Regions from separate parts of the Homo sapiens genome. Here all the other regions are linked to region 2. The links come from fine-mapping of genetic effects on gene expression. A gene starts in region 2. Each other region holds a variant in brackets. All regions are shown on one strand. Distances are between the middles of the regions. Region 1 overlaps CPNE8 (copine 8). Region 2 holds the start of CPNE8 (copine 8). Region 3 has its middle 130 kb from the start of ALG10B. Region 4 overlaps CPNE8 (copine 8). Region 5 overlaps CPNE8 (copine 8).

Region 1 (5,110 bases), 210 kb before region 2:
TTCTTTTCTTAGGTTTTAAAAATGATGGTACATTACAGAGAGCCACACATTCTTTGATACTCTTCCCATTGAGAAGTGAAGGTTAATTCCTCTACCTTGAACCTGGGATGGTCTTAGTAACTTGCCTGACCAATAGGATGTTGCAGAAATAACATTTTGGGACTTCTAAGAATATGATATAAACATCCTTGGAGTTTCTGTCCTAGACTTTTAGATTACTCACCCTGGGAAAGCTGGCTGCTACATAAGAAATCTTGCTACAGTGAGACCACTATACAGTTCTGAAGCCCTCCATAACTACAGAGACAGGCCATATGTAAAACAAGGGAGAGTTGTCCAGGCAACCCCAGCTTTTCAGCTATCCAAGCTCAGGCCCAAGACATGAATGAACATGAGCAAAGAAGTTATGTTAGGAGACATATCAGCCCCAGAAGACATAACATGGAGAAGATCTAAGGAATTCAAAAGACAGCCAGAACTAAGTTGAAAAATATGGCCCCAGTCACCAATTCCAGGCATCTCTAGCCATTCAAGTCACCTAAGCTGAGACTCCAGGTACTGCAAAGCAAAAATGCGCTGTCTCCCATTATATTCTGCTTGAATTCCTGAGGCACAAATCATAAGCATAATAGAATGATATTGTTTGATATCTCTAAGTTTTAGGAAGGTTTGTTAGCAAGCAATAGATAACCAAAATAGACCCCCATTTGTAAATCAGGTGGGTGCACTTCAGGTAGATTTATGGCTAAGCTATTTAGCTGTCCTTTTTTCCCATTAAGTTCACACTCCAAAGTCAATTACTTACCAAAATTAAGCTACAGTCAGTAAAGCTTGCTACTTGACTGACTAAAGAATAAGTACCAAAGCAATATTAAAAGGTCTAACATTAATTTTTCAAAACATCAAATCCTTTTGACAAATTCTTACCAAAGCAAATTCGTGAGATATCCTTCCATCTGGAGGCAGTTTTGCACCAAATCCTAGAGCTGGAAACATTTTATCACTGTCATAATCTTGAACAATTTCTCCCACTGCTTTTAGTGCCATACCATAGGCATTCAGTTGGTAAGGATTCATGTAGTGGAGGGAAGTGGGCTGAGCAGGGTTGCCTGATGACAGAACACATATTTCAAACATAAGCAATTAGGGTAAATAAATTTAACAAAATTTTTCTTGGTGTCTATTTCAGAATGAAATATTCAAAATTATGTTTTTCTGCCTATATACAGTGTGTCAAATCATTTCTTTTTGGATGGATATTAACACAGAAATATTTGTTATATTATATTAGACATATAGAAAGTTCTAAGATATGCCAAAGCATACGCAGAAGTTTTCAGAAATGATTCTTATTTTCAATGCCACAGGGTATTTTTGAGTTTTTGTTCTGGAAGTATAAAAGTACTTTTGTTAATCTTATTTTATTGTAATCTTTATTTTTAAACAAAATCATGTGCCTTTAGCTTGAATCCTTATGCCTATGGCAAGATGACCCAATAGATTTAATGGACTTCAATAATTATGAAGGCTTCCTATAAATAACTGAATATTTGAGAAGTATCCCAATTTAGCACTTAAAAAAGGGAAGTATAGTGATTTTCAAGTGCAGGCTGATTAAATATCTAGATCTAAAAAATTCTTCACAACTTTCGAATGAGACATTAAGCTAGGAGCCAGAGGCCAGAGTCAAGTCTTGCCATTTGTATGGCAGCCTCTGTAAAATAAATCCTACCACTGTGTTTACCCGGAGGACAAAATGAGATTACACGTTTAAAAGTGATTAAAAATAATAAAGCACCATAAAATTGTAAGCTGAACTGCTGCAGTTATTATAGTCTGGGTCATCCACAAGGTTCTGAATTTCAAAATGCTTATACTGTGTAGGATGTTGCACTTGAATAGTGATGAAATTGAGAGAAAGTGTAATGTATTAATATGTGCTACCACTCAAACACATTGAAATTCACAACAAGTTGCCCTAATTACCAGCATAAAGGCAGCCTGAAAGTCCATTTGGTTCCTTAAATAAAAATGGAAAGTTAAATGAGACTTGTAGCAGCATATGAACCTCAATTTTACGTTAAAGCATTGTCTGAAGAAGAAAAGCCTCAGGACATAGTTTTTCTGATAAGGAACAAAAGTAACAAAAAGCACTTGAGATCCAGAGAGAAACAAAATAAAGATCTCCCCTTGGGTTATTTGACAGGTAATTATACACATAATATTTTTGTCCTAAAAACAATTAATTGAACTTTTTTTTATTTTATATTTCCAAGAGTTACCAGCGTTCAAGGGCTGGCTCCAC[A/T]TAACAAAATCACTAAAAAAGTATCTTCTTATCAAAATGGCCTAATGTTCCCCTCAACTTGACTAAACTTGTAGAAAGTTCCTTCCTGACTATAAGACCCTGACCGCTCTTTTCTTACAGCTCTCACTTTAGAAAACTTGCAATTGTAAATTCTTCCTCTGCACCTTTGAGATGTAAATCTTCTACAACCAAGGAGTATCTTTCTCAAGGACATGGAAGGCATCCCTTTGAAATATAAACATCAAGAAAAACAGCAGCCCTATCTTCCAGTCTCCGTGAGAAGATAGAAGCCTAACTTCAATAAGAACCAATTAGCAAACAGAGATGGCCTAAGCACACAAACCAACTTCCGGGCTAATGTCCTCTAGGACTTTTCCAGTAGCTCACCTCAGCAAGCACAAACACTCCAACCTTTTGTTTTGGAGTAGTTGAGTTCAATTTTTGTCCTCTGTTGTAACAGTCTTGACCCCTTTGCAATGGTCTTAAATAAAGCCTTTCTTGCCTTTTTAATGTGTCCAGTGTGATTTTTCTTTGACACTTGCTTCTAAAGTAGGGACTTTGCCACTTGATCCAAAGCCCAGTGGAATCAGAGATTTAAAAATACCATTACTAGACTAAATGGTTATTTAACACAACTCTCATGCCTGAAATCCTAGCACTCTGGGAGGCTGAGGCAGGTGGACAGCTTGAGCCCAGGAGTTTGCAACCAGCCTGGCCAACATGGTGAAACCCTGCCTCTACAAAAAATACAAAAATCAGCTGGGTGTGGTGGCATGTGCCTGTAGTCTCAGCTGCTCAGGAAGCTGAGATGTGGGAGATCACTTGAGTCCGGGAGGTCAAGGGTGCAGTGAGCCCCTGATAGTGTCACTGTACTCCAGCCTGAGCAACAGAGCAAGACCCTGTCTCAAAAACAAACACAAACAAACAAACAAACGAATACTTCCCCCAACTCTCAAACTCACAAATATAGAAGAGTTTTAATCCAATGGTGACAATATGGCAAATACTTTTACTTCACTATGAAAACTGTAAATAAAAAAATATAATTAGTACCCCAGAACATTTAAACATTTTAACCTAACATGCATAGCTGGGCCCTTTGTACCCATACAAAGATGTTACCTATCTCTTTCCAGCATCTTCCTCTACACCAGTCTCTTCACATTACTGCTAATGATACTTTCCCTCCCACCTCTACCTCTCAAGTTGCCACCCTGTCCTGAAATTCACCTTCTCCTCCTCCAACTTATGTCTCACACATACTAGACAACCCTTTTTGTTTATTCCAGCCCTTATTGTCTTTTCTCTTATACTGTTATGGATCTTGTGTTCTATACTAAAAAAAAAAAAAAAATGGCAATTTAAAGTATTGAGTCAACTCCTTGAGTCTGGGACAGTGTTTGTATTTCCTCTGTATCTGCAAAGATGCTTTTAAACAATGAATTTGTAGTAGGTTAATAACATTGGGGCCCAACTAATAGCCATAATAATTATAACACGGAACTTAACATGTATTGACAATTTTATATCATAGCTCACTTAACCCTTTCAACAAACTGACAATATGTATACTTTTGTTATACCCAATATTATCAAAATTATATCTGATTTTGCTTTAGAGATGTACTATACCTTTGTAAGAAACTCACAGTTCAATAGAATATTTTTAAGAGTTTATTGAGACATAATGGCATAAGTTACGTATTAACCATTTAAAATATATAATTCAGCTGGGCATGGTGGCTCATGCCTGTAATCCCAGCACTTTGGGAGGCCAAGGTGGGTGGATCGCTTTGAGCTCAGGAATTCGAGACCAGCCTAGGCAACATGGCAAAATCTCGTCTTTACAAAAAACACACAAATTAGCCAGGAGTTGGTGGCATGTGCCTGTAGTCCCAGCTACTTGGGAGGCTGAGGCTGGAGAATCACTTGAGCCCTGGAAGTGGAGGTTGCAGTGAGCTGAGATTGCACCCCTGTACTCCAGCCTGGGCGACAGAGTGAGATCCCCCATCTCAAAAAACAAAACAAAATAAAACAAAGAACAATTCAATGATTGTTACTATATTCATAGTTATGTGCAATCATCACTATAGTTAATTTCAGAACATTTTTATCACTTCAAAAAGAAACCGTACCCATTAGTTACCACCCTAGCCCTAAATAATCACTAATCGTCTTTTTGTCTCCATTGATTTGTCTCTTCTTGACAGTTCATAAAAACAGAATCACATAACATGTGATCTTTTGTAACTAGCTGCTTTCACTTAGCTTATAGATCTCAACAACCATCTATCTTATAGCCTGCATGTATTAGTGCTTTATTTTTGTTTATTGCAGAATAGTATTCCATTGTATGGATTTTATCATTTATCACTTGTTAGACATTTGGGTTGCTTCCACATTTGGGATATTATGCTGTTATATATATTCACGTATAAGTTTTTTTGCTGACATATGTTTTTAAGTCTCTTGAGTATATATCTAGGAATGAAATTGCTAGGTCATATGGTAACTCTATATTTAACAATGTGAGGAACTTAGCAAAGTGTTTTTCTAAAGTGGCTGTACAATTTTACATTCCCACTGATATAGTTTGGATGTTTGTCCCCTCCAAATCTCAATGTTGGTGATGGGGACTGGTGGGAGGTGTTTAGGTCATGGGGTAGGATCCCCCATGAATGGCTTGGTACCATCTTCCTAGTAATGAGGGAAGTTCTCACTCTGTTAGTTCACGTGAGAGGTGGTTGCTAAAAGGAGCATGGTACCTCCTCCTCTCTCTCTCTCTCTTGCTCCCAACATGTAATA
Region 2 (5,110 bases):
AAGAAAGATAAAGAATGAGAAAGAAAGAACCTATTCAAATCTGAGCTGCTTTTGAAGTGTGGGCAAATCCTCAGAAGTCTCTGGTATAGTAAGGCAAGGGAATTCCTTACTCTGCCTGCCCATAGCAAGGCTCAGAGGCCTTCAACTGTGCTTTGTTGCTAAGTGAAATCCCCACAACCTTTCTACAAAACATGTTCTTGATGCACATCAAAGAAGATAGAGAAAGCGGGAACAGGTATCCCAATGCTGGTTCTATCCTTGTGTTCTTTAACCAACTTATTGAAGTTCAAAAGAGAAGGACTTTTACAGAATTCCATACCTGAATCATATATAACACATTTATTCAACAAATGTTATTTCCAGTATTATAATAATAGCTAACATTTTTGAAAACATGTTTTTGTTTCATGCATTGTGTAAGCGCTTTCACACATCACCTTGATAACACTCTATATAAGGTAAATACCATAACTATTCTTATTTTTGGAGATGAGAATGCTTAGACAGACTGAATAAGAACTTACTCCAAGGTAGCAAGAACAAGTCACAAAGCCAGAATTTGTACTTAGGTCTCTGATGCCAAAGCCCAAACTAAACCACCTCCTATGGTTACAAGATCCAACAATACTCAAATATTTTTATCTTTGAATTTTAATGTATTAAAAATAAATTTAACCCACCTTTTCAGGAACTATTCCCAAACCTATTCCAAAGGCACTAACTTGGGTATTTAATTATGTTTCTCTTTGCCCAAAAGATGCTTTTTACCTCAAACTTATCGTAAATAGTAAGCTGAGTCAGAAGCAACTCAAACAATAGACTAAGCACTAGTGCCCCTGGCAGAGATGCTTGACACTAAGTATTCAGGTTCTCTTTCAGGATTTTTTTTTCCTGTTAGAAATCTTAAAAATTAAAAACAAAATGTCAAAGCAATGTTATGAAAAAAAGCTGGAACAAGGGATTTGCAGGTTCTGAGGCAGCAAACTGAAACAAATTGCCTTAAGCCAATTGACTTCAGTATGCCCAGCACACTCACAGAAAACATGCATCAAAAAAGGGGCTGCATTAAACATGGGCCCTACTGGCAGAATGACCAGTTTAGGTATAATTTCCCTTAAAAAGCTCATGGAAAAATTCAGACTTGATTGACAATATTCTTTTATATTCATTCCAAGTATAGGCCACATGCCATTCAGACTTTGCAGACTGTTGAGCAGAGGATAAGAACTCTAGTAATGCTGTTATTGTAGGACTTCCGGCTATCCATTATCTGTATATACCAGTAACTTCCCTCTAACATCGAAAGCAAGCTTCAGAGAAAAGAAAAAGGCCTAGGAATCCTCTAAAGAGTTTTCCAAACAGCTTCACCTGTTCCATTGACAGAAAAATCTCAGGCAGCACTTAAAGCAGTGACAGCAATGAGGCAAGAGCTTAATGATAGCTATCATTATCAGCATGATTATTTCCATAGTCCCAGATCAGTCTTAAGAGGCGGCAAACAATCAGGTGATATAGTTTCAGGGCTAGATAAAGGCTGTCCCCTACCCTCAAATAATACTTCTACTACGGTTGCTGGTGCTCGAATTTTCACCCCCAGAAAAGAATTCCTTTGGCTTTAGGCTCAGTTTGTGAAAATGCAAAGTCAAGATTGATGGAATTTTAAACTTATTTACATCAAGATCACCCAAATTTGTTAGATATCTTCAAGGCAAGTTTGCTAAGGAAAGGAAAGGGAGGATGTGAGGGCATAAAAACAATCTTAGGGCAAAAATGGATAAATGAGGAGCCAGTTTTCCAGTGAGACAGACCCAATTATGCAAACAAGGGAGTGGGCTCCAGGGTCAATATTAATTCGCAAATTAGTGGCCAGTACCAATTTAGCACCATCGCTCATCTCCTTCTCAAAATCATCTATGATATAGCGGTGATGCTGCTTTATTTACAGGGCAACTAACCGAAAGGTCAGGACAACGAGTTTGCAATTTACAGTCTCTGGACAGGGTTGAAAGTCAGTTTTTTTTTGTTTTTTTTTTTTTTTTGAGATGGAGTCTTGCGCTGTCGCCCAGGCTGGAGTGCAATGGCAAGATCTCAGCTCATTGCAACATCCACATCCCGGGTTCAAGCGATTCTCCTGTCTCAGTCTCCCGAGTAGCTGGGACTACAGGCGCGTGCCACCACGTCCGGCTAATTTTTGCATTTTTAGTAGAGACGGAGTTTCACCATATTGGCCAGGCTGGTCTCGAACTCCTGACCTCGTGATCCACCCGCCTTGGCCTCCCAAAGTGCTGGGAATACAGGCGTATAAACTGTACTGAGCCACTGCGCCCGGCCGAGAGTCAGTTTTTACAAGCACTCAGATGTGGGCCCGAAAACAAATCAAAACAAAAGTCGTGACTTCCCAGATCTTAGGTAAGGCATAGATTCGTCTGCAAGGAGGGCCGAAATCTCTACCTATCAGGCAAAAGGCAAAAAGCCCGGAAGGGTCGGGGAGAAGCAAGCTGGAAGGCTCCAGGAAGTGGGTGGGGAGGAAGCTGCCGGGGTTGGAGCCAACCCTAGCAACAGCAGGTTTGCACACGCCTAGCAGAGGAAGTCCCGGGCCTAAGCGTGCAGCGGTCACAAGAGCTTTTGGCAGTGCTGTCCCCTTCGATTCCGGTCATCACCCAACCATCCAGCCCGGGTTTGGGGCGGAAAACCGGCTTGTAAAGTGGGCGGCGGCCGGTGTTCCCACAGCTGAGTCACAGCCCAGCCAACTTTTACAGCGTTTCCCAGAAAGAAAATACAAAGTCTCAGTCCCGGAGCCCACCGCTTCTAATTCCCGCTCCCCTGTGTCACCTGACCCGGGGTAACTCCAGCCCCACTACTGAGATATTTCCCACTCATGGCGCAACTTCTTGCCTGCGCAAAGCCTCGTGGTACCCCGAGCGCTCTCCAAGTGCTACCAACCCCACAGATGAGAGGGCAGGAGAGAGGGGAAGGGCTGCGTCCTCACCTGCAGGACACGGACACCTCCACCCGCGTGGCCGGGATGGCAGCGCTCAGCTGGTTCAAGTCCCCGATGCCCGCAGTGCTGTTGTAGCGGCTGTCCATATTGGGAGGAGGCGCCTTGGACTTGTCCGGCGCCCACAACCACAGCTCGGGCGGACTGAGGGCTAGCTCCCGTCAGGCGGGGATGGGGGTTGAGGGTGGAGGCAGAAGAAGGAGGCGGAGGCAGCGCGCGGGATGGGGGAGGGAAGGGAGGAGGCGGACCTCCGCGCAGAGCCACGAGGGAACCGCTAGCCAGTCCTGGGTGAAACTGACGCTGCCAGGCAAGTGGCGCGCGGGGATCCCGGTTTCCCAGCCCCCTTCCGGCAGGCAGCAGCCCGGGCGGGGGACACACTCCGTGATCCCCTCCTGGCTGGAGGGGTCAGGCTTGGTGGACCCAGCAAGCAGCCTGATGGAGAAGGTGGCACCAGACGCAGACCCCTACCGTCCAGGACCGCAAGCCCTCGCCGGCTCTGCGTGCTTTTAGGTTTTGTCTCCACCTCTGCACACCCACACTCGCCTCCTGGGCCGCGACAGCTTCCTTCTGTCAATCAGGTGTGGACGGGAAGGTCTCGAAGTTTCCTCGCCTGAGTTGAAAGCTGGAGGTGGGGGCACCTCTGCCCGTTCCTAACTGCCCCGTTATAAGGTCCCCCTCCCCACAATTGGTTCTCACCTCGCCCTCGGAGCTCTTGGGAGATCCCTCCGTCCCTCCTACTGTGCCCTCGGGCAGATGAGTCTGGTCCCAGCTTCTGGACTGCCCACTGTCGGCCACTTGAGAGTTGGGGACGGTGGGGCATTGTGACGCTCTCCAACCTTGGAACACGGTGGCAAAGTGGCCGATCAATATATGGGACAAGTGGGGGCGGGGGGGCGGACTCTAAGGTGGAAAAAACAATACTACTTGGGATTTAAGGAAGCAATCTGGATTCTGTCTCCCCTTGGTTCTTCGGAGCTTAGAGGTCTAACGGCGACATTCCTCCTACAGTAAGGGCTCTTCTGGGTCCCTCGTTTCCAAAGGCATGAAAGTTCTGACCTGAAAATGGGGGCCGGGGAGGGTGATGTCACAACCATATAACGCAGCTCCTTCAGCCGACTCCCACCCGCAAGAACTGAGACCTGACGGATAAAAGCAGAGAGGAGTCAGAGTGAGCGCTGCGTTTGGGAAACTGCATTCCAGGGCAGCAAGACTGGTGCCAAGACGGAGTCGTGGCAAAAGCATCCGGAGGTAGACGAGGCGCCCCTCCACTGCAGGGACCTTTGTTCCCCGCGCCTTCCCTCCTGCCTCACCCGAGCGCCTGCGGGTCCCGGGAGCTCGCCACCAGGCGGCGACGGAGAACAGGATGCGGCGCAGCTGGAAGGCAGAGGGTGGAGAGGGGGCGGGTGTCCGTCCGATTTAACGCTCCAAGCACGGAGTTTCCAGCTGGTTGGGCTAAGTCTGGGAGGAGCAGTTTTTGCGGTGGAGGACTTGCCTTGCGTTGTAACATTTTAATCCACTTGCAGCCTCCTGCCTAGAGAATCTATAGAGGCGGGTGAGAGTGTGTAGGTGCAGTCTTGCCGATTCCCCTGCCGAGTGTACTTCCCCTGTTTCTTCTTGCTTTCCTTTCCTGATTTCCCCACCCACCGCTTTTTCTTCTTTTTTTTTCCTTCCTCTTGTCCTATTACAAATTAAACTGTAGTTTACTGCGATTTGGAAATGCCCTAAAACCCCAGGCATTTCTATTATGCTGCTCAAAGTTAATTTGGCATAGAGATCTAGGTTTTTTTTTAAGCTCACCAGAATTTTACTTTACAGAAGCCTACTGAAGAGATGAAACTTGAGAACTTTAGTAGTCAACATGTGGGATACTTACATCCAATTTGTTTCCACTTCAGTGAGGTATAACATATATAATGAACTGCACTTAAAGTGCATCCATCATTCGATAAATGTTGACTCATGTATCTCCCTGTGAAGCCATCACCAAAATCAAAATAATGAATCATTCCATCACCCAAAAGTTTTCTTACGTCGTAATCAGTACCTCCTTTCATCACTGAAACAACCCTCTAAGCAACCACTGATCTTTATGTCACTATAGAAGAGTTTGCA
Region 3 (5,110 bases), 460 kb before region 2:
AATAACAAACTAATATCTAGCTAGCAAGATCAACTTTATTCTGCAAGATAGCTACTTATTGTGAAGTATTGAGAGATACTTGATCTCAATGTCCTCTTTGTTGACCAGAAGTTTAATGGCAAGAAAAGACTACATTATACTTTGTAGTGAACATTGCCATACCCCAGTACATATACATCATATACAAACTTGTCTCTCAAGTTTCATTCTAGTAAATAAGTATAATCGAGAGTCCAATCCCATTTTTTTGATGTTCGATTACTGATAGTGTGTAAGTTTCATTCTATCCTCTTCCCGGGAAGCCCTACAGCTGGCAAAGCCCCCCAGCTTCCTCCTTTTGCGCAGGCAGGAAGTTCAAACTATGCATATGAACCCTCACCTCAATCCCACCCCCAGCTCATAAAAACCCGATGCCAGTCTCCTTTCCCTGTTTTCTCAAGACATTTTTGGACCAGCTTGGGAGGCATGCCCTGCTCTGCCCAGAAAGCCTTATTGTGTGACTAATAAATCTTTTCTTACCCTCATGGTATGAGTGTAGTATCATCAATTTTGATATCTGAACCAAATTTGGGGTTGGAGATCCATTCTGTTTCTTAGAGTGATCATAAAAACAAGAAAATAAATCCTGATGATCACAGATCCTTTATGCTTTCATCCATGATTCATGAATTAAATAATTTACTTTGCAAATATTTAAGGTGACTAAACAAAACACTATTCCAGGAAATGAGGTATAAAGATAAAAAATATTTAGTTTCAGCAACTAGGAAACAACACATATATGCAAATTGGACCTAAACCTGGGAATATTTGTTAACAATTGGATGTACGATAATATTCTGATCATCATGCCATTGCAGATCCCACATTTCAGTGTAGCTTAGCCTCCCTCATGGTTTACTACTTCTATTCAGTAGTAAACTGCACAATTGGGAAGGATATGGAAAAGTGAAAATATATTCAATTTTTTAACAGCCAGGAAATAGAAGGTTAAAACAAAAAAGACAGCCCTGAGTATCACTCATCTTCATCTTTACTGCCGTCATCATTGCCAAACACTATCATCCAGCAGCTTCCTATCTGATTTTTCTCTTCCACTAATTTTTCCTCCTCTGCATCCCACATATAGTATAACTATCTTTTAAAATGTGAATCAGACGACTAGACTTCCCAGTTAAAGCATTCCGTGGCTTTCTCATTGCTCTTTGAAACAGATAATAATCTGTTTCTGCCTACCCATTCAATCACATCCCCTTCCTTTATCTCCTCCCTTGAATATTCCTACTGTCCTGGCTGTTCTAACAATCTCTGAATTCTAGGGAATCTGGACCTTCAAATATGCTGTTTTACAATGCTTTCTTCTCAATTCTACCTGCCCAACTTCTTTTCATACCTCAGGTTAAAAGTCCCTTTCTCAGATAAGCCATTTCTAAGCTCCTTGAATCTAACTCATCCTTCTGCATTTCTGATAGCATACTGCTCTTTTTTCTTCTCAATTATTATCACAATTTATAATTACAATTGTTCCTCAGTGTCTGTTGGGGATTTGTTCCAGGACTTCCTGTGGATATCAGAAATCAATGGATGCTGAATTTCCTTTCAGAAAATGGCACAGTATTTGCATAAACCTATCAAATACTTTGTAGGTACGTCCTTTGTATATTTTTAATCATCTCAAGATTACTTATAATACCTAATACAATGTAAAACCTATGTAAATAGTTGCTATACTGTACTGTTGGAATAATTACAAGGAAAAAAGTCTGCACATATACAGTGCAGATGCAATTTTGTTTCAAAAATTTTCAATTTGCCGTTGGTTGAATCCATGGATGTAGAACTCATGGATATGAGGGCCTATAATATTAACCTTGGCATTTGTTTACAAACCAAGACAAAAAAATGTCCATGAAGGCAGAGAACTGTATGAGTAGTCTTTTGCTATTATTGGGAAACAAGTGTCCATGAGTGTCTCAGGTATCTACACATGTTGATAGCAGAAACATCGACTGCCTTTTCTCCTATCTTTCAAGCATGTTTGCTAAGATATGTAACAACATAGTGTATCTCAAGCAGTCATTCTTGCTGTTTAGTGTAGTATACATAATGCAAAGGTCAGGCATGCTTACTGCACCTTATAAAAGATTAGAATTTCCTAAACTCAGGGGTCCTTGCCTGTAACACATTCCACTATGTGTACATTTGCTACCTACCCAGCACTCTTTACAGCACCCAGGGAAAATCTAGGCCTGGAGAGCTGCTACAAATGCTTATAGCTCAGCTAATGTTATTATTGTGAATAATGAACTGGCCTTTGTTTCTGACCAAAGAGTTTCATGCATTATGCCAGTATTCATGCACCTGTGGCAGGCTAACTTGTAAGCTTGAAAGTAGAGTAGAATTTCAGACTCTTTGTACTTCTTAAAAGTCACCACCATAAGCCTAGGACAAACACAGTTCACAGCCCACATTAGGTATGTAATAAAAATGTGTCTTAGGCTTGGTTTCTCACCCTAAAGCAACTGCAGATATTTAAGTACACATATAATTTTCCCTGTATCAGAAGGATTACAAATGTTCTGGGACCCTTCCACAGGCAAATAGACCTCCATGGACTTTGAATGGTCTAGTTGACTTCTATTCTAATATATATATATATTTATATATATGTATATATTTTTATATATATTTATATATGTATATATTTATATATATTTATATACATATTTATATATATATTTATATATATTTTTATATATATTTATATACATATTTATATATATATTTATATATATTTTTATATATATTTATATATATAAATATATACATACACATATATACATATATGTGTGTGTATATATAAATAAATACACACACATATATACATATATGTGTGTGTATATATAAATATATACATATACATATATACATATGTGTGTGTATATATATACATATATATGTGTGTGTATATATATACACAATAGGTGTATATACAGTATATACCTAATGGAATGAAG[G/A]CCTAGAGAAAATTCTTATGTCCTAGACTGTTCCAGCTGCTAAAACAAAATACCTTAGACTGGGTAATTTATAAACAATAGAAATCTATTGTTTACAGTCCTGAAGGCTAGAAAGTCCAAGATCAAGGTGCCAGAAGATTCAGTATCTAGTGAGGGCTGCTGTCCTTCAAAGGTGGTACCTTTTTGTTGTGTCCTCACCCAGTGGAAGGAGCAAACAAACGCCCTCAAGCACTTTTATAAAGGCATTAATCTCATTCATAAAGGTAAAGCCTCATGATCTAATCACTTCTCAATGGTTCCACAACTTAAGACAATTATCTTGGAGGTTAGGTTTCATATATGAATTGTGAAGGGACATAAACATTCAGATCATAACACCATATCTCATTAATTCCATTATTTTCTTCTTGTTCTAGTTGCCACCTCTACCTCTATATCAGCGCCTTGAAATAATTTTCAGAACCAAAGATAAAAGCACTTCCCACAGTGGCAGTAAAATTCTTAAATGTGCTACCATTCAGAATATATGTAAGTAAGTAAAGCTAAGTTCAAGAGTATTTAGATAAACCCATGGCCAGAACCACAGAGGTCATCAAAGTTGAGTTTTAAGTGCATTATTGAAAATTCTCTGACCTTGGGAAAGTTACCTTTTGAGTCTAGGTCTTATAATCTAAAAAGTAGAATAAGTTTGTTTGGATCATAAGATTGTTTTGAAGATGAAATATGATTTTATGGAAACAGCCAAGATGGGGAAGGACCAAAGACAATGATAATGCAAGTTTTTTTTTTTTTTTTTTTTTTTTTTTTTTGGCAATTACTGCATCTGTCTGTGGTACCCCACTTAGTCTTTTCCTTTGTTTTTAAGTACAATTTGCATAATTGACGTATCCTGACATAAGTAATTCTCACTCCCACATGTCTCCCTATATTGCTACAAAGTTTCATTTGGTGGAAATATAGTTCTCTTGCTTGGCTCCAAGGACTCTCAGCTTTGATATATTGTGGCCCTTGGAACTTAGATCCAATGGGCTCAATCTTTGTATGTACAGAAGTTGAAAGCAGAAGTCATTTGAATTTCTTTGCCCTAGGAGTTACAAAGCCCAAATATGCACCATAAAATAGAAGAAAATTGTGAGGGCACTATAAATACACCCCAATATCAATAATTATTTGCTCATTGATTTATGGCAAGTTCCTTATTGTCTCTGAACTTGGCTTCTTTCTTTGTAAAATAGGATACAACAATAGTAGTTACCTACAGGAGTGTCGTGAGTATTAAACAAGATTTTGTATGAAGTGCTCACAATTCTTGAAGCTGTTGCTATATCTACACACACATACAGACAGACATGAAAAGTACGTATTCTATTAATTTTTTCAGAATGAGAAACTAACCCAGAGAGACCAAGCAGTTTCTGCAAGATAACAAAGCAAGAAGATGTGAAATTAAGCCAAAAACTTGAGTCTGTCCAGTTACAGAGAAACCAAGCAGTTTCTACAAGATAACAAAGCTAGTAAAATGTGGAATTAAGATAAAAATTAATTCTGTCCAGTTACAATATCTAGGCTGTCTAAATGCAGAATAACAAGTGACTGGGACCATTTTAGAGCTTTTCTATTTGTCCTGACTCTAAGAGTATTATTTTGGATCTGAGACTCTGTATACTTGTGAAACTTTCCCAAGTCTAAAATAAACAAACAAAAAACTCCTGGGGGAGCCAGTAATGCTTCTCTCTCAAGAAACTGGCATTAAAGCACTTATGAGCTGACATAATATCTGCTCACTGAACTAAAAACTGGTTTAAAATCGAGAAGATGAACTACTTAGTAAACATCTCAGAATGAAAGGCAAAGTATTTGTCTTTCATTACAGTCATAAACCTTTAACAGATCTTCGTGAGAAAGGCTAAATAAGCAGTAACAGATACCATAAATACCACCATATAAGTCTTCAGTGTCAAATGCATTTTACTTTTTATCAAAATTTGTAAACATGCTGCAAAATCTCTAGGTCTAAATGCAGTTGGATGAGTAGTCATCATGATGTTATTAAATGACAAATTTTCTTTAAGGGTATAGATGGATGAATGAAC
Region 4 (5,110 bases), 250 kb before region 2:
AACTTCTTTTAATTCATTTATTTCATAAGGAGAGAAAGATCTTTGAAAGAGTAGCTATTTTTAAGCCAACCCTAAGCATATTCCTTCCTTTATCCTTCCCCCTAATTTGTGAGGTCAATGACATCCACCCATTTGACTGATAGCAAATCCCATCTGTATGAAATCAGCTTATCTAAATACATTAGGAATGCCCAGCAGGCCTGTTTCATGGAAATTAAATTGGTGAATAACTTTGTGGTGAGAAAATCATGAGGTCATGGTCACTATTGCTTTAAAACTAAATGAGCAAATCTTTCGATCAGTTTGCTTTTGCTCTTTCCATAGTCAGAGTTCAGTGGTCATTTTCCTCTCAGAGTTTGACATTCAGAGCATCTCTAAAGCCAGAAAATAAGAGCAAGGTTAGCTGTTGGGGTTGGGGGTGTGCTGATGAAGTATGAGGTAAGCAATAACCCTGACTGATGAGGTGTGAATATATTGCCTCAAATACTGCTCAAAAGTTTGTGATATGAATTAGAACTATTATGTCTTTGAGATAATCTTAGTATAGACATTATATTTGGAGACTTCTGTGTATTATGTTAGCATATTTTGCTTAGAGACAAAGAAGTAAGATTCTATACAGTAAAATGGTAGCTGGGGGTGGGGGTCATATCAATTTAAAGAAAAATAATTTTGTTATGGGCTACTCTGTGTTGGGAAAGTACTTCTACTTGGTATCTCCTCATTCCAGGTTAAAAACCTGAAATCTAGGAGGTGAGCATTGCTTAGGATAATCATCTCTTAAGAGTTATAAACATAGCTTAGGCAATAACTCATGAGAAAATACTTGTTTGTTGCTTCTCTATTTCCCCTTTCACATTTCCTAAGGAAGCCGTTTAAAACTTGTGCATGTTCATGATATACCAAGTCTTCCCTTATCAAAGTCATACCTAAGTAACTAAGATATGATGAAGAAAGGTTTTTTTAGAAAAAATTTTGGTGCAAAGAATTATGTCAATATGTTTTTAAAATGTGCTTATTCTTAAGATCCGTGTATCTGATCTCAGCACATCCCAATAGTTTGTAAAATGAAGGACTGCCTATTGTTAAATGACGCTCAGGTATCAACAGAGCAAATAGAGTGATACTTGGTAGGAAAGTGGGGTGAGGGGAACAGTCATGGTTGGGAGAAGAGGATGTCTTCTAGAACAGTGTTTATTCTAAGGAAATAACAAGGTTGAATCCCTTTGACTCTACGCTTTGATGTCCTCTGGGTCATCTGATGATACACCTATTTTCGTGAGTGGTAGGATGTTTATGAAGAAGGTGGTGAAAAATGCAAGGACATTCATGTCTTATTCCTCTGAAGTTTATTTGCTACAATACATTTGCCATGGAATTGTATGTGAATACTCTTTCAATTTAATTTCAGTATAAATATCGTAGGGCATATAAGTAGAAAAAATGAAGGTGGAACTGGCTGTAAGCAGAGGTTATTTAGGAAATAATCTCTGTAATGCAGTGCTTCCCTACATTTCAAGACACACATTAAAAATGGGAATGTTTGTTAAAATATCCTGAGGTTAGCCAATGAACATGATGGAGGCTGGGAGCTCCAATTACCCCAGGCACTATACACCACCCCAAGGTGCACACCTGTAGCCCATCTGCAAGGCATAAATCTGTAAATCATCTGTAACACACTGATGAGAAAGCTCTGCACAAGTGTGACTTTTTGCAAGTAGATTTCCATCTTTTCCATCTTCATAGGTAACACTCCACATGCACTCAATCTATTTGATCCTCAACTCAGCAGCTTATTTATTAGTAAATGTATCTGATTTGTGCTAATCACAAAAATTATTCTTTACTCTGAGTTTTTATGAAGAATCTGGCCACTTTGTCTCAATTACAGCTATATGTAACACAAAGTCATTAAATAAAATTCACGCAAGCTGAAAGAAAAAGGCATGCTCTTCAGTAAAATCTTTGGCATTTCAGGTCTTCTAAGAAATAACCACATCCACCTCATCTTTGTGAGAGGTCTTTATTTCCTAAG[T/C]TGATGATGACACAGTAATAAAAAAAAAAAGTGCATGAGTCCATCTATTATCTTCCCTGAGCCTGAAAAACAAAATAACCTATGCTCCAACCCTAATCCCAAATCCACTCTCTTCCCACATTCACCACCACCAGAGTCATATCCACCTCTTCTTTTCTCTCGATATTGCATGTTGGAAGAGATAATTTAAAAAGTAGTAATTGAGTCATCCAATAGTCTTTAGTTGCAGCAATTTCACACTCTAGCTACACATTACAATAAACTGGGGAGCTTTAAAAATTTACCAGGTGCCATTAAATACTATTCCATAAGGATGGAGAGACAAGATGCCCCAGATAAAATAAAATAGTTTAGAAATAATCTGAGGCAATTAATATGCTGAAATGCAATACAAAGATGAGCTCATAGAAAGTACTGATTATTGTTAGCATTGAAGTTTTAAAGAACAAGGTTCAGAGGAGCTGGGGCTTGAGTTGGAAAGTGCAAAGGATATCCTCAGGTAAAGACCAGAGAAGAGGGCTTGATGAGAGAACAGAGTATGAACACTATAGACAGACTCCAGGTAAACTCGGAGTGGTTGCGGAAAAGGAATGAGGCAGGCCTGGTTAGTTTTAATATTAATTTGAGAAGCAATAGGAATTGGTATTACATAACTGGGCAAATTCAGATGATGGAGATACTTGAAAATAACACCAAGAGTTCATCCTGGAGTTCAAATGATAATTAGAGGCTTTCATTGGAGAGGAAGGAAATGAGATTACAAAGATAGGACAGTGCCCAAAGTCTCTGGGGTTCTTGAGGGCACCACTTGAAGACTGACTTCTGCAGCAGGTTTAATGACTTGAATCTATCACCCCTTCTCAATATATACCTTTCTTGTTGCTCATTACCGTAAGTGTAAATATCCCTGATAACCAGTTTGTATGTACAACTATTACTATGTGTTTTCCTTTATGAAGCATGTCTCTGGGATTTCCTATTGCATAGCACCTAATAGCAACTAACAAAATGTAAGTTATAACAAATATTTCCAAGATGGTAATGAGCTCTTCTCTAGTTATATAGTCTTGGATACATCACTTAATCCCTCCAATCTTGGTTTACTACATTTTTGCAATGAATACACAAGATTTACGTATTTTCTAATCTTACATGTAGCATTAACTTCACATAAGTTTCTGATTATCATTCTCAGCCATATAAATGATAACATTTGTAAAGAGAAATTGCTTCATTCCTGGCCATTTACTCCCACTAGGTTTGAGCAATCTATTATTTATACAAGGAATTGTACAACTTTTGTTTTCTCTGGACAGTTCAAAAAAATAACTGATGTTTGACAAGAAGAAAAGAATATTGATCTTATTTATTTGTTTTTTGGGTTGATAAATAAAGCTAAATTTAAAAATCTGTAGGTAATACACTGTAGTGGCATAAATATTTAAGATCAGTAAAGGAAATCATCAAACTATTGTCATTCATACATGAAACGTACAAAGCAAATAGTTATGATTTAAAGATTTTAATACATAATTAAAAATCAACAATTATTACATAGTTATATAACATTGATACTGTTAGATATGTGGATGTATATATTTTTCTTTCCAGTAAAATAGTTTCATGCTTATAAAAGTCACCCTAGGTCAACTTGGGACAAAGAAAACAATGTACAGTAGAAATAAACCAAGTATTAAATAGAATATATAGGTAAGGAAAAAATATTATAAAGCAGTTACATTTTTGACACACACACACACACAAATAAATACACTTTTCTATTATTTGAAGGCAATTCACAATCATTTCCAGGAATTCCGTGAGAATTTAAGGCCATTTGTTCTAAAGAAATGCTTTAATTTAGACACAACTTCACAAAACTGTAATTCTTGTAAAAACTGTACATGCAAAAACCCTTTACAATTATTCGTGGACAGGCAGGTCAGTATATAGGAGTAGGTTATTTCACAAATGTGTTGTGCACTAAGTCACATAGTTGTATATATTTAACTGGGAATTTCACAAAAGACTTCCAGCCTGTGCACCTTGTGTGGCAACGTGGAATGGTGATAACAAGAAATTCCGATCAAGAGAGCCAGTATCCCTTTGAATTAAAATATCTAGACAAGATATAATGGAATAAAAAGTTTAAAACATCTGCTACATAGTTCACAGTTAAATAGTCTTGGTTTCAGTCTTTCTAAATAGCATTATTATATAAGGATGCTACTTTTTACAAAGTATTTTCTGTGCATTTATAGATCACAATGTTTGACTTTTTATAATTTCTACTTAGTGTTACAAAATACAAACCAACTGCAGTCTAAATTTAGAACCCAAACTCCATGAAAAATGCATGTTCAACCAGGAGACACATCTGCCGGGCTTAAACTCCCATACCCAGCAAACATTGCTGAGAAATTGTTTATTAAGCAGATGTAGTTTCTTAAGACAATCCAGTTACTGAAAAATAGAAAAGCATTTTTCCCTTCCCTTATTTGCAATTGTGTTTGTCCAGACAGTCATTCAAAGAGATATTGCTCTTGTGATTATAGCTATTGCAATTTAGAAGACAAAGGATTCAGTATTTAAAACTCTTATTTTTAAGAACAGTTATAAAAGTATTGAAATTTAAAAAGTAGTAACATGTAAACATTGATACAGAGACTGCTTTCCTATACACATAGCAGTCGAAGACAATATTTGAGTTAAAAACACAGTTTGTGCTTTTTCCCAACAATACATTGGAAATTAGCTGTTTCTGTTAAAAAAAAAAAGAAAGAAAGATTTAGAGAAGACATCCATACTTTGCTTCAAGCATTTAAACAATTTTTTCTGTTGCTCATGCAACAACCATATTTACAGTTTTGGTTTAGGAAGATATTTAAATTTGGATCCAAGAAAGCACATTAACTGCTGAAACCAAACTGAGAAAACTATCTCATTGCCTGGTTCATTACAGAGCACCAGGCACAAAGCATTAACTCAGCACTTTTGATTTGTAGTTGACATTAGCATTTCAGAGCACAGTCATATTTGAGTCTGTAACACATGTGTAGGTGGGGTGTATGG
Region 5 (5,110 bases), 77 kb before region 2:
TCCCACTATTTGCTTATTAGATTGATTCAGGAAAAAAAGTTAAAAAGTAAAAAAAGTGAAGTACATGGAAGAGCAGGAGTTAGCAAGGATGAATGTGGAATTTAGGACTCCATGGAGTGGACCAGCTGCTCTGAAGGGCTATCTTGGCATTATTCGCAGATAAAGCTTCCATGAAAACAGCATTTTGCTCTTCCTCAACCCAATTGTGCTTTTTCAAACAAAAAGTATGAATGGTTGTGTTTTTCATTTGAGACTGAGGTAAGGGAGTAAAATGCTATTTGCATAGAAGCTGTATCTTCTCTCAAAGTACCTGAACTTAAAACTTAGCCAACAGACCTTGTTCTTCAATCCACATGTTCTTCCTCCAGACATATGCCTCTCTCACAGCTAGAGTTTTTCATTAAAGCCAGTCTTTTCTATGTAAGACGAAGGGTGACTACAAAATGTTTTTTCCAGTCCATTGTTCACCTGCGTTGGAACATCTGATCCAGTGATAGCACGTCACTAGGTGCCTTAATTAATAAAGCCAAAATATCTTTCCACTAGCAAACTAATCGTATTCACTTTTACTCTCCCATTTTTAATTAATCTTTCCTATTTCATTTCACCCTCTCATCTCTTTCCTCTATTGGATTATCTCAGGTATCTAATCCAATTCACTACTGTTTAATGAATGTAATTGCAACCAGTCTGCAATTCCTAAGGTTTTGTTTCTTTGCTTTTTTCTTTTGTAGTCCATCTCTTTGCTACACTCAAGCTTTACATTTTCTTACCCACTTAGTACTAAAACTTGCCTAGCTAAGTTTTCTTAGAAAAATTTAGAAATCTTCCACTGCTCAAACAATAATCTTACCTTTAAACTATTTTCTTAATGTTTATTTGCCTGACAAGACTGTCCAAGGAGATGAAGGGCTGAATAAAATTTAGTGATATAAGCTTAGAAAATCAAATTAATTATTCCTTTTTCAGTAAGAAAGATAGAACCTGAGGACCTTCAATAAAGTTGTCTAAATTTCAGAATATCCTATAGATGAAGCACAGCATGTGGTTACTGTAGATCCATGTTGGATGAACAAGTTTTGAAGTCTTTCCCTCATTACACTATATGAAATATGTGTATGTTATACCCCGCCCTTAGCAAGAGCTAAGAAAAATCTAAATCTCATCCTTTCTGATTACATAAAATGATCATGACTCAACCCCCAGCAAATTCTCCCAACATCTGCATATTCTACCAGTCTACCCTAGGTATCTTCACCTCTTAGCAAGAATTTATTTTTGCTGGTCATACCTAGTGGGAATTGTTGAATCAGCTGAACAAGGACCATATCTTATGCTATGTTCTATTCACCACATACCCCAATCAACACATTATAATAATATCAAATTTTTAATATATTCCAAGATTAATATAAATATGATTTTCCACTGGTAAATTTTTTATAACTTAATAATTTAATCATTTTCTGAAATTAGAATTATGATTTCCTTATGTTAAAAAAACAGATAAAAATTTCCAATAAAATTACTAATTTAAAAATATGTATACCACATAGGCTGGGTGCAGTGGCTCACGCCTGTAATCCCAGAACTTTGGGAGGCCGAGGCGGGCAGATCACGAGGTCAGGAGTTCGAGACCAGCCTGACCAACATGCTGAAACCCCGTCTCTACTAAAAATACAAAAAAAAAAAAAAAAAAATTAGCAGGGTGCCACACGTGCGCCTGTAATCCCAGCTACTCGGGAGGCTGAGGCAGAAGAATCACTTGAACCCGGGAGGCAGAGGTTGCAGTGAGCAGAGATTGCGCCTGGACAACAAAGGGAGACTCCGTCTCAAAAAAAAAAAAAAAAAAAAGTATACCACATAGCCAACGTGCATAGGAAAGAAATGCTCAACATCACTAATCATTAGAGAAATGCAAATAAAAACCATAATGAGATATCATCTTAGAACAGTCAGAGTGGCTATTACTAAAAAGTCAAAAAATAACAGATGCTGGTGAGGCTGCAGAGAAAAGGGAACACTTATATGCTGCTGGTGGAAATGTAAATTAGTTCAGCCATTGTGTAAAGCAATTTGGTGATTTCTCAAACAACTTAAAACAGAATTACCATTTGACCCAGCAATCCCATTATTGGGTACATAGCCAAAGGAATATAAATTGTTCTACCATAAAGACATTCATGTTTATGTTCATTGCAGCACTATTCACAATAGCAAAGACATGGAATCAACCTAAATGCCCACCAATGGTGGACTGGATAAATAAAATGTGGTAAATATACAACATGGAATATTATATAGACATAAAAAAGTCTGAAATTTTAACCTTTGTAGCAACAGTAATGGAACTAGAGGCCATTATCCTAAGCAAATTGACACAGGAACAGAAAACCAAATACCACATGTTCTCACTTATAAGCGGGAGATAAACATTGAGTAGTCATGGACACAAAGAAGGAAACAGCAGACACTGGAGCCT[A/G]CTTGAGGGTGGAGGAAGGGAGGAAAGTGAGGACCGAAAAACTACCTATGGGGTACTATGCTTATTACCTGGGTGATGAAATAATCTGTATGCCAAAGCCCTGTGATGTGCAATTTATCTACCTAACAAACCTGCACAAGTACCTCTGAACCTAAAATAAAAGCTAACAAATAAATAAATGAATAAGAAGTGTACCCATTCATAAAAATCTCTATTCTGTTGCTTGGAAATGAAAATTCTGTATTTTAATTGCTTTTGTTTTCTCTTGAAGAATGTTAAAGGCATCTTTAAGGTGGTATTGCATATATTATTGATTCTTTTTAACGACAAAAAACAAAAGGTAGATTTAGTGGTCTTAGGAATCCTTGTGAGCATAAGTCACTAGAATAGGAGATGCAATTAGAATTATATGCACTCAATAAAATATTTGCATCTGCCTCACAGATTGCTTACTACTTACTAAAGTGAGCATAAATATATTTTTGTAATAAGCTTCCAAGTCCTATAATTATGTGAAAATAAATTACACACAAAAAGAATTTAAAATGGGAGCTGATATATGAAAGTTTTCAAACTGACATTCGGTAATAATTTTCTAAGGAAATCAAATTAAATTTCAAAAACTTAGAATTTATAGAATTCTTATTAGCCTAATAATTTCTTGCATAGCAATGAACACACTAAATAAAAAGTTTAATTTTATATAAGAAATGTGAGAATAATGCCTTGCCATTTCAAGTATTTATGTCAGAAATAAACAGATTTATGGAGTATTGGAATATTTATTTTTTGAGTTTGAGATTCTTAAAAGGTTGATGAAGATAAAGACTTCAAAATTCCCTAAAGCTTTTGAGATTGTGGTTAACTCTGCAAATGTACTATTCTTTCTAGATCTTCTGAATTTTATGAACAGTTAAGTCAATCCAAATAATCAGGATTAGGGAAGGGGAAGAAGGAGGAAAGGAGAATAAAGCCATGAAAAATTTCTAAAATTTGCTCCCTGCCTTATTTGGAACTGGAGGAAACAGAATCAACTCATGCAATTGACATGAAAACTAAACATGATCCTAGTAATTGAAGGTGAAGATGGAATAGACCATTCTTAGTGATTACCTTCTCCCAATATTTACCTACTTACAGCTTTCTCTACAAGCCACTTCCATGGTAAAAATTATTATGAAAATTTCAATAACCAAAAGTGCATTTATGAAATACATGGTATTAACAGCAGTTTACTACATATATTTACTAACCCAAAAGAGTAAAATCTCTTTTTCAAGAAGTACGAAATCTGATAATTAATAGTACAACCAAAAGAAAAACAACACATTTCCTTATTTAAATTTGCTCATTTCATCTTGTGAAAATTTTTTAGCATAGCATATGACAGGTGACATAGAAATTATTCTTTAAAAATATGTCAAAATTATTTGTTAAAAGAAAAAACTCAAACAAGATTTTAAAACCCACTTTTGCTCCACAACCATGCATTCACCAATTCCAAACTGACAAAATAGAAACTGTTAAAGTTGGCATTTCATTGTCTGAATTAAAAAATACTTACACTATTGGTTTTTCCAGGCGACTTCCCTGTGAACCAACGATCTCTCCCAATGTACAAAACACTTGTCCCAGAAAGTCCTGAAATAGATAAAAAGATTAAAGCTCATAAGTTTCCAAACTATCTTTACAGTATATGTTTTGTACATCATACATCTGCATTGTTTTCATTGCTGAAATATTGACATTTCTAACTTCCAACAATAAGTAAAATAAGCTCAATATGCATTAATCTTACCATGTGACTTTCACATGTTTGCACAGCATTTTGTGTTTTTAATCACAGAGCAGTTATTCTGAGTTCACAGGCATTGCATTTGTTTTCTTTTTATGTTTTAAGTTACAATACAAAATAGACAAAAGTTGGAGGTTTTGAATGCACAATTGGCTTAACTTCGGATGCCTCTGAATTACTGGAATTGTTGGCTGAGGAGACAAAATGAGAAAGCCCACAGCAGAGGTGGCTAATCCCAGTAACACTTAGAGAAAGGTCATGTGATGCAGTAGCCTCAACTAGGGTCCACAGCCAACCTGCCAGGTGTCTATTCTAGTACTACCACTTACTAACTGTGATTGTAGGCAATTAATTAAGCTCTGCAGTTTGCTCTTCTCTATAATGTATTAGTACCTCCTCACAAAATTGTTCTGAGGGTTCAATTAGTTATTGCATGAGTTAATACTAGCATATTGTAAGTGCCTAAAAATGGGTTAAGTAAAATATACTATAACGTTCATTAACATACAACCGTATGATTCTTATTTTCAAGACTCAGAATAACCCTGTAAATGAGAGGTCTGATATTAACACTGCATTTCACATATAAAGAAACTAAGTGCTTATTTCACATTGCATGCCTATATCAAAACATCTCATGTACCTCATAAATGCATACACCTACTATGTACTCACAAAAATTTTTAATTTAATTTAATTTAATTTAAAAAATAGAAACTAAAACTCTAGAAGGTTGATTTTCCATAAATAGCAGAGCCAAGACAAACTCTGATGTTCTGATTCCAGACTGATATGCCACATAAGAATTTAAATACCATAAGTACAGTGCAAAC

Evidence for each region. PIP is the estimated chance that this variant, and not a neighbour inherited with it, causes the effect. A credible set is the group of variants that fine-mapping cannot tell apart.
Region 1: its variant is the best candidate, but not a certain one, in a credible set for the expression of CPNE8 in tibial nerve (GTEx, PIP 0.66).
Region 3: its variant is the best candidate, but not a certain one, in a credible set for the expression of CPNE8 in whole blood (TOPMed, PIP 0.53).
Region 4: its variant is the best candidate, but not a certain one, in a credible set for the expression of CPNE8 in whole blood (TOPMed, PIP 0.77).
Region 5: its variant is the best candidate, but not a certain one, in a credible set for the expression of CPNE8 in whole blood (INTERVAL, PIP 0.53).

Annotation. Positions count from the first base shown.
Region 1 is chr12:38,692,730-38,697,839 of GRCh38, forward strand. It overlaps CPNE8 (copine 8), which reads right to left. Exons shown (of 20, transcript NM_153634.3): 15 at 928-1,109. Among named protein-coding and RNA genes, the nearest start is that of CPNE8, 210 kb to the right of the region's middle. The variant A/T (reference allele first, on the strand shown) is at 2,306.
Region 2 is chr12:38,902,448-38,907,557 of GRCh38, forward strand. CPNE8 (copine 8) reads right to left here and starts at 3,144. Exons shown (of 20, transcript NM_153634.3): 1 at 2,990-3,144. The coding sequence starts at 3,087. It overlaps CPNE8-AS1 (CPNE8 antisense RNA 1), which reads left to right and starts at 3,265. Exons shown (of 2, transcript XR_007063275.1): 1 at 3,265-4,550. RefSeq lists a silencer at 3,129-3,298 and an enhancer at 4,429-4,688.
Region 3 is chr12:38,444,726-38,449,835 of GRCh38, forward strand. No RefSeq gene overlaps it. Among named protein-coding and RNA genes, the nearest start is that of ALG10B, 130 kb to the left of the region's middle. The variant G/A (reference allele first, on the strand shown) is at 3,018.
Region 4 is chr12:38,648,814-38,653,923 of GRCh38, forward strand. It overlaps CPNE8 (copine 8), which reads right to left. Exons shown (of 20, transcript NM_153634.3): 20 at 3,390-5,110. The coding sequence ends at 5,069. Among named protein-coding and RNA genes, the nearest start is that of CPNE8, 250 kb to the right of the region's middle. The variant T/C (reference allele first, on the strand shown) is at 2,039.
Region 5 is chr12:38,825,333-38,830,442 of GRCh38, forward strand. It overlaps CPNE8 (copine 8), which reads right to left. Exons shown (of 20, transcript NM_153634.3): 6 at 4,047-4,123. Among named protein-coding and RNA genes, the nearest start is that of CPNE8, 78 kb to the right of the region's middle. The variant A/G (reference allele first, on the strand shown) is at 2,483.